Regions from separate parts of the Homo sapiens genome. Here region 2 is linked to region 1. The links come from fine-mapping of genetic effects on gene expression. Tissue or cell type: whole blood. Region 1 holds a variant in brackets; the other region holds the start of a gene. All regions are shown on one strand. Distances are from middle to middle.

What was found. PIP is the estimated chance that this variant, and not a neighbour inherited with it, causes the effect.
Region 2: it holds the start of SEMA7A, and the variant in region 1 is fine-mapped to the expression of SEMA7A in whole blood (TOPMed, PIP above 0.99).

Annotation. Positions count from the first base shown.
Region 1 is chr15:74,398,792-74,406,894 of GRCh38, forward strand. No RefSeq gene overlaps it. Among named protein-coding and RNA genes, the nearest start is that of MIR6881, 8.6 kb to the right of the region's middle. RefSeq lists enhancers at 882-1,382, 1,141-1,370, 2,651-3,151, 3,881-3,930, 4,151-4,680 and 7 more and a silencer at 4,176-4,385. The variant T/G (reference allele first, on the strand shown) is at 4,333.
Region 2 is chr15:74,430,302-74,438,404 of GRCh38, forward strand. SEMA7A (semaphorin 7A (JohnMiltonHagen blood group)) reads right to left here and starts at 3,657. Exons shown (of 14, transcript NM_003612.5): 1 at 3,440-3,657. The coding sequence starts at 3,617. RefSeq lists silencers at 2,820-2,939, 3,090-3,239, 3,290-3,799.

The DNA.
Region 1 (8,103 bases):
TGATCACACAAAAACTTGTACACAAATATTCATACAGCGTTATTCTGGATATTATTATAACAGCCGAAAAGTGGGAACAATGTCCATGTCCATCAACTGAGGCACAGATAAGCAACATGGCCTAGCCACACAATGAGCTCTCATTCAGCAGTGAGAAGATGGGGCGTCCTGGTTCAGGCTACCACATGATAACCCCTGAAAACAGTATGCTAAGTGAAAGAAGTCAGACACAAAAGGTGACATGTACAATTCCATTTATATGAAATGCCTAGAAGCTGGATGCAGTGGCTCACGCCTGTAGTCCCAACTATTTGGGAGGCCCAGGCAGGAGGATTACTTGAGCCCAGGAGTTTGAATCCAGCCTGGAAAACATAGCGCGACCTCATCTCTGAATAAATTATTTAATTTAATTTTTTAAAAAATGTCCAGAAGAGACAAATGCATAGAGACAGAAAGTACATTAGTTGGGGGACAAGGAAAGGGGAAGTAACTGCTAACAGGCACGAGGTTTCTTGGGGGTGATGGAATGTTCCAGAGTTAGCTAGAGGTAGGTGTCATAGAGCATTATGAATATACTCAAAACCACTGCAATGTGCATTTTGAAATGGCAAAATTTGTGTTATATGAACCTTTACTCAATAAATACATAAATAAATAAATAATAAATAAATAAATAAATAAATAAATAAATAAAAAGGCAACAACAGCCACCCCAGGGACAGGTTTGGAAAGCCAAACTTGTCTGACTGGCTGGGTGGCTTGTCTATTTGTGTGTTTCTTAAAACAGCATCCTACAGGAGAACTATTCTTTGCTCAGGGAAACCCCCACCCCCTCACTCCACTCCTACCTCGAGACAAGGCCTCTGAGGAGCAGATGGGAGGAGAGGGGCTCTGGGGAAACATAGGGGGCATTGCAGTGGGGTGCTGCCCTCTCCTTGGGCAGGTGCCCCCATGATGAGCAGACTCAAGGTCCAGCTACAGTCCCAGCTCTGGTACAGGTCCTGTCCCTTTCCTCAGTTTCCCCATCTGCAGTCTGCCTCCCGGGGTCTTTCTGAGGTCAGTATGTAGCATGACAGAGCCTGAGAACTGCCAAACTGCCATGTTCTCTCAGAGACCCCTTTTTGGCATGCATTCCAGATGTGGGACCAGAGGTTGGGAAGTTCTTCCTTTGGTCTGACCACAGTATTCCACTTGGAGACAGCAGTGGGAAGAGGCCTTCCACTGAGTCACCCTGACTCAACTTTCATCAGCTTCAGGCCCCCCGTGGGGGTCCTTCCCCCACCGGATGCTCACTTTGCTGTAATGGGGCAGGATGTGGGTTCCCTGCTGTGGGAGAGCAGCCCCCACAGCAGCTGCTCCCTAAGATGGTTCTGGCAGGAACCAATGAGAGGAGAAAGCTGATCCTCAACCCCTGCAGGGGCCCTGCAGCCCAAGCAGAGGGCCTCTCAGCCCACCTCGGTCCCAAGTAGGACAGATTGACAGGTGACCTCCCTGTCTCAGAGCCTCAGGGTGTCTTGGAACAAGTGATCCCATCATCTTCCTCTGAGGTCCAAGACTCGGGTGCTAATGGACTCTGTGTAGGGAACCCTGGTCACTGGGGCAGACTCTGTCCCAGACCTGATCTTTGCCATTTTGCCAGAGTGGCCCACCTGACTGCTTCTCTCTGCTGTGTGTATCACTTGTATTAACCGCGAACCCAGCAAAGAGAGCAGGAGCTTGGGCCGGGCACAGTGGCTCACACATGTAATCCCAGCATTCTGGGAGGCTGAAGCAGGTGGATGACTTGAGGTCAGGAGTTTGAGACAAGCCTGGTCAACATGGTGAAACCCCGTATCTACTAAAAATTAAAAAAAAAAAAAAATTAACCAGGCGTGGTGTAATCCCAGCTACTCAAGAGGCTGAGGCAAGAGAATCACTCGAACTCGGGAGGCAGAGGTTGCAGTGAGTCAAGATCGTGCCACCGCACTCCAGCCTAGGCAACAGAACAAGATCCTATCTCAAAAAAAAAAAAAAAAAGTAAAAGTAGAACCCCTGTTTCTTGAGGACAAAGATTAGATGCATCTTTTTGTTGTGAAATTTTGGTAAACTACTTACTCTTTCTCAGCCTCAGTTCTTTGAACTATGAAATGGAGACAATAGTAATAGTATCAACCTCAAAGGGCTGGTGAGAAAACTAACCAAGACAATTCACACAAAGTTTCAGAACAGTCCCGGGCAGGTGCGTGACTTACGCATTTGGCTTTTGTTCACCACTATTACTACTTGCTTATTGAAGCTGAGCCAGGTGGCTGAGCAATGTCCCTTTCTGGCAAGGAGGGTGGAGGCAAGTGTCACATTTCAGAAAGATCCCTGGGCTCCTGTTGAATCTGTCCCCACACCAAAACATGCCCGTGGGGGCTCTAGCTCCTGCCCCAGCAGCGAAAGGGGCTCCTCCTTCTCTGGTGCCCAGTCCTAGCTCACCTGCTCTTCACAAGCCTCCTCCCAGCACAGCCTGCACCACACAGGTGCTCAGTAAGGGGGTTGCTCTGAACAGGGAGCAGGCCCACATGCTGAGAGTGGTGGAGGCGTGCAGGCTCTGATGACCACCTGAACCCAGACTCCAGGGCAGGACAGGTCCTTACAGACCGTAAGGGCTTCCTGCCTACCCTCTTCCCATGCAGTTACCTCAACCCTGGGACACCAGGAAGGTTGAGCATTCCAGGAAAGCCCCGACCCACCCAGGAAACCCAAGTACCTGGTGGGGCCTCATCTGGCCCATTGTCCTGAAAGGACAGGAATAAAGGCTCTCTCCTCATGGCCACACACCCTAGGGACGTCCAGCCTCCAGCTTTCTGTGGGTGGGGCAAATGACTGAGGAGGCTTCCCTCCCTGCAGGCGCCTCCCTCTGGGGCCTCCTGTGGTCCAGTCGTCCCTGGTCCCCAGCTCTCAGGTGGGTCATAGGGCATCTCAGCAGGACCACCAGGAAGAGCATCAGGAGGGGAAGGAGCCAGAGAGCCCTCCAGGCCAGTGCACTGCTAACTCAACATCTCATCTTCCTATCTCGTCCCTTCTGCTCACCTCCGGAGACTCCCCCTCCCCTCTCATGCTCTTCACTGGCAGGTTATGATGGCCCAGAGATCCCCACCAGAGTCCCAGATATCAGTGGGGATCCCAGCCTATTCCTCCAAGCTCCCAGTTGCCAGTGACAGGGAGGCAGAAACAGCCTGGAAATTAACTGTGGGTTCTCCCTGAGCCTGTGGATACATGGAAAGAGAGCTTCACCACCACCCCCTTCTCTGAATATACATACAGGATCTGAGGAGGGAGGATTCTGTGTGGATGCATGTGTGCACAGATGTGCATGTTTGTACGTGTGTATGGGTGAGCAGGTCATACGTGTGGTCCCATGTGCCCACCTGTTGTATATATGCATGCTTGTTTTGTGTAAGTGAGCATAAGAGGTCAAGCCAGAGAGAGAAATAGGAACAAGGAGAGACAGAGAGAGAGAGAATAGAAACAGAGACCAACAGGGAAACAGAATGAGACTGAGACAGAGAACAACAGAAGGCCAGACAGGTAGACAAGCCACAGTTCCATCTTCCCTGGTGCTGGCTGCCAAGGCAGACAACTCTCCTCTCACTTCATTGATGTTCTGCCTGTGTTTATACCCATGATTGGGGTGGAGTTCAGGAAAGGATGTATCAGGGCTAGGACGCCCCCACCTCCACACTCACAGGGCCAGTCAGGGCCCTCTGCAGGGGCTGCCATTTCCTCAAGCTGAGGAATGGGCTTGGATCCCTCGGATGCCTTCCAGGGTGCAGGGGCGCTCCCAGTGACTGGGCTCTTGTGGTGGCTGGGGAGGGGGAGCTCCTCTGACAGGCCCCATGCTGGGGGAAACGTCCTGAGACTGACCTATCACGGGCTGACATGCACACCAAGGAGGTCTCACATCTGCTGGGAAATGAGGGGCTGGTGGAGGTGAGAAAACCTCAAGTTCTAATGCCTTCCCAACACCTTCACCTCACCTGAGAAGCTTCTAGATTCCACCCACCCCTGTTTCCTTGGGGGAGGGTGTTGTGTGGAGGTGGGAAGAGGCAGGAGTCCAGGTTCTAGGCCAGGCTCTGAAGGGGCAGGTAGCTCAGAGCAAGAGGCTGGCCTTGCACCTGCTCTGCCTAATGGGACAGTAATGCCCACGATGGCATTCCGCCTCTGAGGGCTGTGGTGAGGCTGTGGAGAGATGTCAGGGACAAGAAAAGGCCTTGGAAACCAGCTGTGGGAAGAACAGCCCATGAGCTCAGCATTTCCCCTGGCTTCCCCGAAAGCCGGCCCCCAGGAGAGGAAGGTGACTGTGAC[T/G]TCTGCCGCCACCACTTCCTGCAGCTGGGACCCTGCTCACTCAGAATGTGGAACCGTCATGGGCCAGCAGTGTCACCTGCACACTCACTCCTGCCACCAGGAAACCCTTCTGCAGGGCAGGTCCCCAAGCCCCGTATCTCAGGTTCTGACCAGGATGTGTCCTCAGCAGTGGTCGCCCGACATTGATGGGAGGGACGGGTCCCAGCTGGGCATCAGGATATGGAGGGTTTCATTCCAGCTCTGCCACCAAGGTACTGGTTGCCTCGAGGCATTCCCCTTGCTGGACCTCATTGAGGAGACTTCCTGTATTGCTAAGCAGGCAGGAACCCCAGAAGCTCAGAGCCGGAAGGCACCAGGGCTTCCCACAAGATGTGGAGGACCCAAAACAGGGAGACAGGCCCTGGCACCTAAGCGTTCCTTCTGGGCTCTACACAAGGTGTGGGTGGCACCAGAGCTACTGCAGGCTACTTGATCCAAGGGGCAGTCCTGCTCCACCGTGGGCTGGACGAAGACATCATCTACTCCAGGGCATCCACGCGTGGGGTGGGAGCCAACAGACCTGCGGTGCTGCCTTCCAGCTTGGGACTGGCCCCCGTACTCCATCCCGTGCACCCAGCCCTTCCGGCTCACCCCTTCCATGGCATGTTGTGCTCTCTCGCACCCCATGCTTTGCATGTGCTGGTTTCATTACCTGCAACACCTTCACCCCACTTGTGTCTGGCTAGCGTCCCCTCCAGAATGGAGAGTGGACAAAACATGGGGTCTGGAATTCCAGGGGTCAGGGCCCAGGCTGTTAGGAAAGGCAGAGTGTGAAGCAGACCCTCAGCAGGCCTCACAGCAGGGAGTGCTGAGCTCAGGGTTCTCAGGGGCCAGGATGGGACAGACGCCGAGGAGATGGGGGTCGGTAGCTGGGGCAGATTGTGCAGACAGTCTGGATTGTGGAGGAGCTGCCGGGCGCAGGGCCCCACTTGGCGCGGGCGGCTGTGGGGGAGGCTGAAACTGCAGACTATTTTTAGGCTCCTGCTGAATTGAGAGATGAGGATGCTCTGGGCTACAAGCCCTCATTCGCTGGGGAAAGACTAAGGGGGCCCCAGTTCCCCCGATCTGCCCCCAGAGCTCAAAGTCTCCAGAGCTTCCTCTTTTGTCTCTAGGGACCAAGGGCTGGGGTCAGGAAGTGGACTGGAAGTATCCCCAGCACCCTAGATAGGCAAACACCCACAAGAAGTGATTTCCATACCATTTGCACACTGCCCTGCTTCCTGATCAGAAGGAACGGAAACGTTCCCTTTCAGAAGACCCTCAGCGGAGCAGTGCATTCACCAGAGTCCACTTTCACCTGCCCCACTGGGTATCAGGAGAGTCCCAGGAGAGCGACACAAGCTCTAAAGTCAGAAAGCACAAACGGGGGTTGTTAGCACTGTGGTGTAGCATCCGCTAGGCTCGGGGTAGCAAATAAGTTCCATCTGATCAATTGCTGGTGACTCCTAAGGAGAAATGCTGGTGAGGATCCATTCATTCATTCCACAAATAATTTACTGACCACCTACTGTGTGCTAGGTGCTACTCTAGGTGCTATGAAATTTAGCTGTGAACAAAAAAAGACAAAATTCCCTGCCCCCGCAGAGCAGATATTCCGTAACAGTGTTGTCCAACAGAAATACAATATGAGCCACACACATAATTTAAAATGTTCCAGTAGCCACACTAGATAAAAGTTAAAGAAGACCAGGAGCGGTGGCTCACGCCTGTAATCCCAGCATTTTGGGAGGCCAAGGCGGGCAGATCATTTGAGGTCAGGAGTTGGAGACCAGCCTGGCCAACATGGTGAAACCCCGTCTCTACTGAAAATACAAACATTAGCCGGGCGTGGTGGCGGGCGCCTGTAATCTCAGCTACTCGGGAGGCTGAGGTAGGAGAATCGCTTAACCTGGGAGGCGAAGGTTGTGGTGAGCCAAGGTCCTGCCACTGCACTTCATTCTGTGCTACAGAGCAAGACTCCATCTAAAAAACAAAACAACAACAACAAAAAAAGTTAAAGAAATAGGTGGAATTAATTTTTGTATGTTATCTAGCCAAATATATCTTATATCTGAAATATTATCATTTCTTTTTTTCTTTTTTTTTTGAGACAGAGTTTCATTCTTGTTGCCCAGGCTGGAGTAAAATGGAGCAATCTCAGCTCACTGCAACCTTTGCCTCCCAGGTTCAGGCGATTCTCCTGCCTCAGCCTCCCAAATAACTGGGATTACAGGTACACGCCACCATGCCCACCTAATTTTTGTATTTTTAGTAGAGACAGGGTTTCACCATGTTAGCCAGGCTGGTCTCAAACTCCTGACCTCAGGTGATCTACTGACCTCAGCCTCCCAAAGCTCTGGGATTACAGGTGTGAGCCACCACGCCCAACCTCTAATATTATCATTTCAAAGTGTAATCGATGTAAAAATTTAAGGTCATTTTTTTCATATTATGTTTTCAAAATCCAGTGTGTTGTTTATACTTACAGCACATCTCAATTCAGATGAGCCCTATTTCAAGTGCCCAGTAGCCCCCAGAGAATGCAAGTTCTGAAGAAAATCACTCATATGAGCTCAGGAAAGGAATGCCACAATTGATCAGCAATGCCTGCTCCAGGCATAGGCTACAGCTGAATCAAGCTGCAAGCCATGTGTTTCCCCACCATGATATAGGCTCAGCCCCAAAGGACGTGTTCACCTCTACCTAAGCCCTTCTGAGCTCATTTATTTTGCCCAACTTGAAAGAACTGCCAGAGTTCTGGGACCTTGACTTGGTTCGAGTGCAGCGGTTCTGGTGTGAACACCACCCTACAGAAACGCCCCAGCATACTAACAGGGCCAGCGCCTCCCGAGTGTGGTTCTGTGCTCCTTCCCTTGGTGGGGGCTGACTCATGGCCATTGGTGACCCTGAGAATGTGGATTTTGTTTTTGTTTTTCTCCCAAGGTCTCTTCCTCCCAGAGTTAACCAATATTGAGATAAAAGTGTTTCCGAGCCAGATTTAGCCATTTCAGCCCCATTCCACTGGCCCAAGCCTACAGACCTCCTGTCTGGCACTGTAGCCAGGATGGCTGCACTTTCTTTTCCAGTAAGCAGAAGGCTAAAATTGGACCATTTAAGGAGCTAGAAACACCTGGAAATGGTGAGGAGTGGGTCTTTGGTGTAAGAGATGGGGTGTAAGAAAACACGGATCTCAGGCTCCCATTATCCTCACCATTATTATCATTATCATCTACCCCACCCCTGCTCAAAATCCTTCAATTGCTCCCTAGTGTCTGCAGGATAAAGATCTTGCTTTAGTTCCCAGGATCGGGAACTGCTGGAGTCATCCAGTCTCACCTCTAGATACTCTCCCTTCTCTCATCTTATTCATTCATTCAGTAAGAATGTCCTGAGCACCTAATATGTGCCAGGCACTGTTCTAGGTACTAGAGATACAGCTGTGAACAAAACTGCCAAGGATTTCTGGCTTCATGGAGCTCACTTTACTCCAGCGAGCCCATAACACCCCAGGCCCTCTCACACTCCCAGGCCTTTGTAAATGCTGTTCCCTCTCCATTCAGTCACTCTCCTCCTGGGGAACTTCTACACATCCTCTAAGGCCCTACTCAAAGCCTTCCCTGAGCACTCCGCTCAATGGGTTAGGTTCCTCCTCTGAGCTCCCACCTCCCACCTAGGACCGTCACACGTATGGTCACTGTCCAGCCCACAGCCCTTCCCTACCAGGCTTTAAGTGTCTCCAGGGCAGGGGCTGTG
Region 2 (8,103 bases), 32 kb after region 1:
AAATCTAAGATTTAAACAGGCCACCACAGACTCTGCCCAGCCCCTCCCATCCCAGAGAGAGAGAAATCCTAAGACATTAAATCTCAGAAAAGGATGAGCCCCCTCCCCTACCCTCTTTGGGCATTTGGGGAAACTGGGGTTCAGTAAAAGGCAAAGACTTGCCCAGTCACAGAGCAAATTAGGTCACAGCCTGAACCAGGCTCCCGACCTCCCAGCTCTCTCCCCTATACCATGGTCATCATTGGACCTGTGCCAGCGTCCATTCCACCGGACCTGCTCTCAGAATCTTCACTGTCCAGGACAGAGGGGTCACAGAGCTTGGTAGGAAGCTCCTGGTGACCTCACCAAGCATCTCTCTTGGCTTAGGAAACTCCCCCTCTCCTCCGGGGAATTGCCCCCCCACCATGAGACTCTGTGGAGGGAGTTCACCTTGAAGGTGATGAACACATCTAAGTCCCCAAGGGGGCAAGGATTTCCACTGGAAATGCTGATGCTTGGGAAGCCCCAGATGTGACCTCATCCCCTGGAGGAGGTAACAACAACCTCCTGCCCTGGGGAGCAGCCCCAGAATGGCTCCCCAGCAGCCACCAAGTCAACAATAACATCCCGTTGTTTCACTGGACAAAAGCGAGGGAGGGCAGAACCAGCCGGGCAGGTTGAGACTGGGGATATGGGTTCTGTTTCCCCATGGACAGGCTGGTTCACCTCTGACCTTGGGGTTCCAAGCCTTCTTTAGCTCCTCCAACCACTGATAAAATGGAAGAGGGGTGCACAGCTTACAAACGCATGCCAACCTCCTGCTAAGCCCCAGCCCTCACCTGCAATCTACTCCCTTACAGTTCCTGCTTACAGGAAGATCAGGACCACACATGCACATCCTTGACTGGCCCATGTGTCAGTGACAGCCCTTGGGGGACAATCCCTACAGCCTTTCTTGCTCTGGCAGGCTCTAAGGGTCAAAGACAAGTGTGGAGCTCAAGGACACCCAGCAGGTACATGATGGCCCATCTCTCTCCCTGGCCTGAGCTACGCTGTGCCAGACTTTCATCAAGCTGCAGAGGCAGCAATCTCCCTGATCAGTGCAGGCTGGGCCCCTCTCAGAGTTCCCTGCTTTAATCTTTCTCTAGAACTTGGGGATCCAAGCAGCAGAAAATAAAGAACTTTCCATACCTATTCCAGTCCCCACAGCTGTCCTGACTCAAAACTAAAACCCCCATCTATGCCTCATAGAGAAATGGCTCCAGAACCACCACCATCCCTGATTTTGTCATTCCTGGATACCACCATACTCCCACCCACCACTGGTAGACAGAGCTCTAGGCTTCCAGAAAGACCCCCTCTTACCCTGTTCCTGGGTTTGTCCTACCCAAGCCCATTCCTGTCCGATTGCCATGTGTCACCCCACAGGAGACAGGAGGCAGCTGTCAGTCGGGCACACCATCACCAGCTGGTGGCCCTGGGGGTGGGGGGCAGGTGAATGGCAGGGCCTGTCTGGCCAGTGGGGCACCTGGCACTGGTGAAGGAGACCACAGACTGTCGTTGGACAAGACTGGTGAACGGTTGGCAGACCCCAGCCAGCGGGGCTCAACAGTGCATTACTAAGCAGAGGGCACAGCCAGTGTGGCTACAGCAGTGAACTGCGGGCGGGGGGGTAGGCCATGGAGCTGTGCTGGGAGCTTCGAAAAGTGGGTAAGAGGACTGAAAGCAACTTTAAATAGCCTCAGGGTGGGAACTAAGTGCCCAGGATGGGATGTATGCATTAAGTGCTAAGAAGTGGGTGTGCATTAAGTGGGGTGGGGGTGGGGGGTCATGGGAAGACTTTGGGACAGGCAAACAGAGTCAAAATGCAAGGGGTTTGATGGAGGGAAAGATTCCAGAACACTCAGATGTGGCCATTTGTCCCCTCCAGAGTGCCCACACGCTATGATGTCCAAGACAGCCAAGGAGACTGAGGGAAGGCAAAGCTGCTGGGAGGGCAAAGGAAGCTTGGGCTGGAGCTGGGATGGCAGAGGGGTGTGCAGGCCTCCTCCATGTACAGGCGGCCGGAGCTCTAGCAGCACTGCTCGGCTTCCTCCAGGAGCACCTCAGGCTGGGTAGCCGAGCTGGTCCCCAGAGCACCTCATTCATGGTCCCTGAACCACCTAAATCCTTCTCCCCTCCCTAACCCAGAACCTGGACTGGTCCTGTGCCAGATCAGAGCCCCTGCCTGCACCTGGGCTCCCACACTGCTCAGTGACCTTGGGCAAGTCACATTCCCTCAGCTACTGCGGCAGTTCGGGCCACTCGTTTTGTGTATGGTTTTTTTTCCCCTCTGCTAATAATACCTGCCCCAGATAATGCTCAGACTCCCGCAATCCCTGCAAACTGCCAAAGGCATCAAAAGGCTCCCGGTGGGGCCAGACCCGACCAGTTCCCCCAGCCCCCACTGCGAGTCCCCCACCATCACGACAGGGGGGCCGCAGACACGCCAAATTTGGGGACAGAGCCGAATCGGACTGGGGGCGGGGAGGCATTTGTGTGCAATGCAGGGGAGGGGAGATCAGTTCCTCGCGGCAGAAAGCCTCAAACCCCCGCCTAACCGGCTTTCTGTCCCATAGTACAGGGTCTAAACTGAGGTGCCCTGGGGGAGACTCCAGTCCCCCAGGTTCTTATTATCTACCCTGGCCTAAAGGCTGCACCCCCGCCCTAGATCCACCGCCTGGGGGTCCCAACGGCCGTGCCCCACCCAACGGGCACTGCCCCCCAACGCTGGAGCCGATTTCTGGTGACAACTGCCACGTGCGGGCAAGGGGGGAGCGGCCGGTCCCGGCATTGCTGAGGCAGCGCCCTGGTACCCCAAGCCGCCGCACCGCACCATGTCCCGCCGCTCGCTGCAGGATGCCCACCCCCTTGCCTGGCCCGAGCTCCGGGCCGGGGCGGGGGCGGGGGCAGGCGGCGGGGTCTTTGTTCCCGCTGCCGAAGCGCGGCGGCGGCGGCAAGGGGTCCGCGCCCCCCTTGCCGGCCCAGCCTGCGCCCCGCGCGCCAGCAGAGCCCGCAGCTCAAAAGGAGGGTACCCGGGTTGGGGTCCCAGGCGGGGAAAGGTCCTCCGCCGAAGCCCCCGAGCCAGAGGACCCAGAGTGGCTCGGGGCCGAGAGAGGGGCCCGCCCCCTCCCCTGGCGCCCGGGCGTTGCGGCTCCTGGCTGCCAGGGACTTGGTGCGACTTAGCCGGGGCTCCGGCCCCCGCCGCTCGCTCGCCGCAGCGTTACAGCCGGCTCTGGTGTGCCAGCGTGTACACTCACACACACTCACCCAAACCCACACGCTCCACGCGGGGACAGCGCGGGGACAGCCCGGGACCCGCAGAGCTGCGCGCACGCACTCCCTCCGGGTGCAGCACACTCCGCACCCGCCCCGCGCAGCGTCTGATCCCGCGCCTGACCGGCCGCGCGGCGCCGCCTACCTTTCCAGACGGCGAAGATGCGGGGTCCGCTCCTTAGGTGGCCCTGGGCGGAGGCGGCGGCCGCCCAGAGCAGCAGCAGCAGCCGCAGCCGCAGCGGAAGCCCCAACCGAGCCGGCGGGCCAGGGACGCGGGCGCGCGGTGCGCTGGGGGCGGCACGTCCGGGCGGAGGAGGCGTCATCCCGTGGCCCCGGGAGCGACAGCGGCAATCAGCCGAGACTGAGCCAGCGCCCGGCCGCAGGCAGACCCAAGCGCCAGGAGGCGGAGCCAGCGCTGACCCCACCCCGCCCCTCCCCCCGCCCCTCGCAGCCTTTTCTCGCCTCACTGGCTTTCCTGAGCGAGAGCGGAACTGCTGGGGGAACCTTCGCCACCCTCTCCCGGGCAACTCTACGGGGAAAGCCCAGCTGCGGACAAGCCAGACTTGTGGTCTTCTGCCAGGGGCGGCAGGCCCTATCCCCTCTCTGGGCCTCAGTTCCACTCCCCGCACCCCGTAAAAAGATTGGCGTAGAAGTCGTGGAGGACCTCTCTCCAAGGGCGCAGAGGAGTCCAACACCCAACAACCTTGCTATGGCCAGCTAAGTGGTTCGCACCCTGAGGACTATGGTCCTCGGAGGATGCGTTCGCCTAAGTGGACACGGCTCCCTGCTGAGCCTACCAGCAGGCACAACGATGATATGTGGGGAGCACTCAGGGACCCGCTGTTGCTTTGCCTGGGAGAACACTGGAAATTTTTCATCTTGGCCTGGCTCCTTCCCCTCCCTCTCCTTTCTCCTCCCTTTCCCAGCCAGCAGCCTTCTGGGCTGCCTCCCCCCAAGCCAGCTGGTGTACGCTCAGAAAATCCAAACTCATTTCCATGTGAGTGGAGGGGGATATAATTAGGAAGGCCCCTTCCCCAAGTAGAGAGGGGAGCATCCCCCGTGCCCCACTCACTGTGGGGGAGGGAGGGTCAAAGCAGCTTAAGGGGATCTCTGCCCGCAAAGTGCCTAGGGCTCAGCTATCTCAGGCAACCTGACCATTCAGTGGGGACTCCCTTGGGGGGTCCAGGCCCAGACCCTCTGCAGTTACCTGAGCAGTCCAGCCAGCTCTGCCATCAGCTCCTCCTCTCAGAACTACGTGCCTGCCCTTTGTAAAAGGGTCTCCTCTCTCTAGACCAGACAGGGCCCAGACCTACCACTTCCACTTGTGCCCCAGGGAACCATGAATGGAAAATCCACCCAGCTCAGTAAGTACTTATCTAGTGTTTACTGGATGTCTAGCTGCACTGAGAGGAGACAGGCCGAGGAAGGAGTAGAGGTGAACATCCAACCTTCAGAACTCACAGACCTAGACACGATTCACGCACTGCAGACACCAGCAAAGGCGGTGGGCTGGCTGCCCTCTGCCCTCTGCCCTGCTCCATGGGGCCAGGACCATTTGGTTGTTGTTTTTACCTCCTGGAACCAGGAAAGTTTTGCTACCAAGAAGTTTGGCTTTACCATTCTACATTTTGCTTCCAGTTGTCCCCTCCTTCTTCCCTCAGAGTCCTGAGGCACCCCAGCAGGCCAGGAAGGTAAACTCAAGGTACCTCCAGAGACAGTGCAGAGTGAGGTTCCTGGCCCACTGGGTGAAGCCAACAGCCTCCTGATACACAGGGGCACACTGCCCCAGAGAGGGAGGCTGTGGACAGTCTAAGAGCTCCTCCTCAGGCCTGCACCTAAGCCTGTGGCCCTGAAGCCAGCAGTGGAGCCTGGCCCAGGCCAGCCTCTAAGATGGACATTCGGTTTCACCTGCTAGACAGGTATTGCCCTCAGTGTCTGTCCTCTCTATGCAAAGCTAGGGCAAACTAAGAAATCACCTGTCTCTGCCTTTTGGAACTAAGAATTCAAATGGATTCAAAATCAATGATAACACTGCCCATGTGCATGGCAACTCACAACACATAACCCACATTCACCTACCTCATCTCTGCCAGTCCTCCACTCTCTTCCTCTCACTGAGGGAGGGAGCGTAACTCCACTGCAGAGAAGAAAACTGAGGTACAGGGAGGGACAAGGACGGACCTGCCCGAGGTCAACCGGTAAATGGTAGAACGAAGATGGGTTTTCTGACTGCAATAACAATTGCTAACACTGTGGTTCCTATGTGCTGTGCCATCTCATAGCCTCTCCCAACTCATTCAATCTTCGCACTCCTATGAGATAGGAGCTATTAGTCACCTCCCTTTACAAATGAAGAAATCAAGGCACAGACAAGGGATGTGAAGTGCCAGGATCGCACAACTAGAGGCAGGACGGATTGAAACTCAGGTGGTTTCTCAAGGACCCACACCCTTGACTTCTCTCTGTGTGATGTACCCTGGCACTGCTGCCTCCTGTCTGTGGCTGAAGTCTGGGTCCAAACCATCCCCAGAAGGACCTAGATAGGGCCCAGGTCACCAGGTGCTGAGTAGGAGGGCAGACCAGGGAATGGGCTCAATCTCCCAATCAACAGAGTAGCAGATGGAAACTGGGGTAGATGCCAGATAATTTTTTTTCCAGACTGGGGGGTAGGGGGGAAGGAAGTAGTACTTAAGACCATCCTCCCCACAAGCCAGCCAACCTGGGGACAAAGGGCCAGGCGAGATGGCAGCCCACTCTCTCGGTTGGCTGCAGGCAGCCAGGGGAGGAGAGAACTAAGCCCATGACTTGAGGCAATAACTTTATAAAGGGAAAGGCAGCTAGACTGTGGGGCAGGCACTATGACCAGAGTTTAGGCATGGACTTTCCTGCCTCAGGCAGCATAGGAAAATCAAGTCAGAATGGTATAGGTGGTGTCAGAGGCCTGCCTGCCTCATTGGAGGCCAAGGCTGGCTCTTGAGCCTGGACCAAGAACAGGGGCACAATTCCCACTCACAGCCAGTGATGGGAAGTGGACCAGCAGAGGAAGCAACACATGTGGATGCTGACACGTCTGATGGGGAGGCACATTCTTGTCCCTCCCTTCTCCATGATTCCACATTCAGGGGAGGGAGGAAGAAATGATGCAGGGCTTCTATCGATAAGAAAAATACCTTGAGAAGGATCACTTCCTGAGCCCCATGGACAGCTGAGGCACAGCCCAATCCAAGAAGGCTCCTTTTGGAATGAAAGAAATGGATACACACAGACCTGAGATTCATGGTCTTGAAGCAGTGGCAGAAGCCCCGGGCAATCCCCCCAACATTCCAACTAAAGCCTCTCACCTTTCAGGGTCCAACTTAACTCATCCTTCCATTCTCCAGAGTTATCTGACCTCCTCCTCAGCCCTGATTCCATGGCTACACATGGCCTTCACAGGAGTGACCCACCTCAAACAAGAGGCCTGTGGGAGATAGAAGGATTCCGTGAGGAGATAACATATGCAGACGTGAGGTCACCCACACACAGTTCACTTCCTTTCACAGATACGATGATCCAAGAATCCCAATTCTTAGGATTAGAAGTAGCTCTCAGAGGGCATTCAATCCCCAACAGCCCCCTCCATGCTAGATCCCACCCCTTCTTTGAGGCCTCAGAGCTTGGTGGCCATTCAGACCTCCTGGCTACTAACAGCAGCAACAATTCCTATTGCCTACCACCATTACTACCTATTGCAGGGGGCAGAGACTTGGAACTGATGAGAACGAGGGGAGTGGGTGGGCTGGGGTCTGCAGAACCCTGTGCTGTCTATAAGGCAATTTCGACTCAGCTCCAGCCCATGGAACCATGAAGAAGTAAACCCAGTAGTGAAAGGTAGTATGATTTTCAAGAGAAGCTGAAAATTGAGGGCTGGGCACGGTGGCTCATGCCTGTAATCCCAGCACTTTGGGAGGCCAAGGCAGGTGGATCACCTGAGGTCAGGAGTTCAAGATCAGCCTGCACAATATGGTGAAACCCCATCTCTACTAAAAAATACAAAAATTAGCCGGGCATGGTAGCGAGCGCCTGTAATTCCAGCTACTTGGGAGGCTGAGGCAGGAAAATCACTTAAACCCAGGAGGCGGAGGTTGCAGTGAACCAAGATCGCACCACTGCACTCCAGCATGGGACACAAGAGTGAAACTCTGTCTCAAAAAAAAAAAAAAGAAAAGAAAAGAAAAAAGAGGCCAGGGGTGGTGGCTCACGGCTGTAATCCCAGAACTTTGGGAGACCGAGGTGGGTGGATCACAAGGTCAATGATTTCTGTCCTAATCATTCTACATGCATTTTTATCTGACAAGGTCAGGAGTTCGAGACCAGCCTGGCCAAAATGGTGAAACCCCATTTCTACTAAAAATGTAAACATTAGCCGGGCATGGTGGCACGCAACTGTAATCCCAGCTACTTGGGAGGCTGAGGCAGGAGAATCACTTGAACCTGGGAGGTGGAGGTTGCAGTGAGCTGAGATTGCGCCATTGCACTCCAGCCTGGGTGACAGGGCGAGACTCCATCAAAAAAAAGAAAAGAAAATTGACTCTTTGTTGAAACTCTCTCTTTTAAAATATTGGCAAATAATTCAAAAGTTAAGGAGGATGGATATGGGCAAATAAAAACAGGTCTGGGGCCCATATCTGGGACCCCCAACATACCATGTGCCCACTGTGACTATCTCACAGGCACAGGCACGACAGTCACTATACCTGGCCCAACTCTTGGCAGACCATGTCAGGCAAGGAGTGCCAAGAAGACACTTCTCAGGCTGCCCAGGCCATG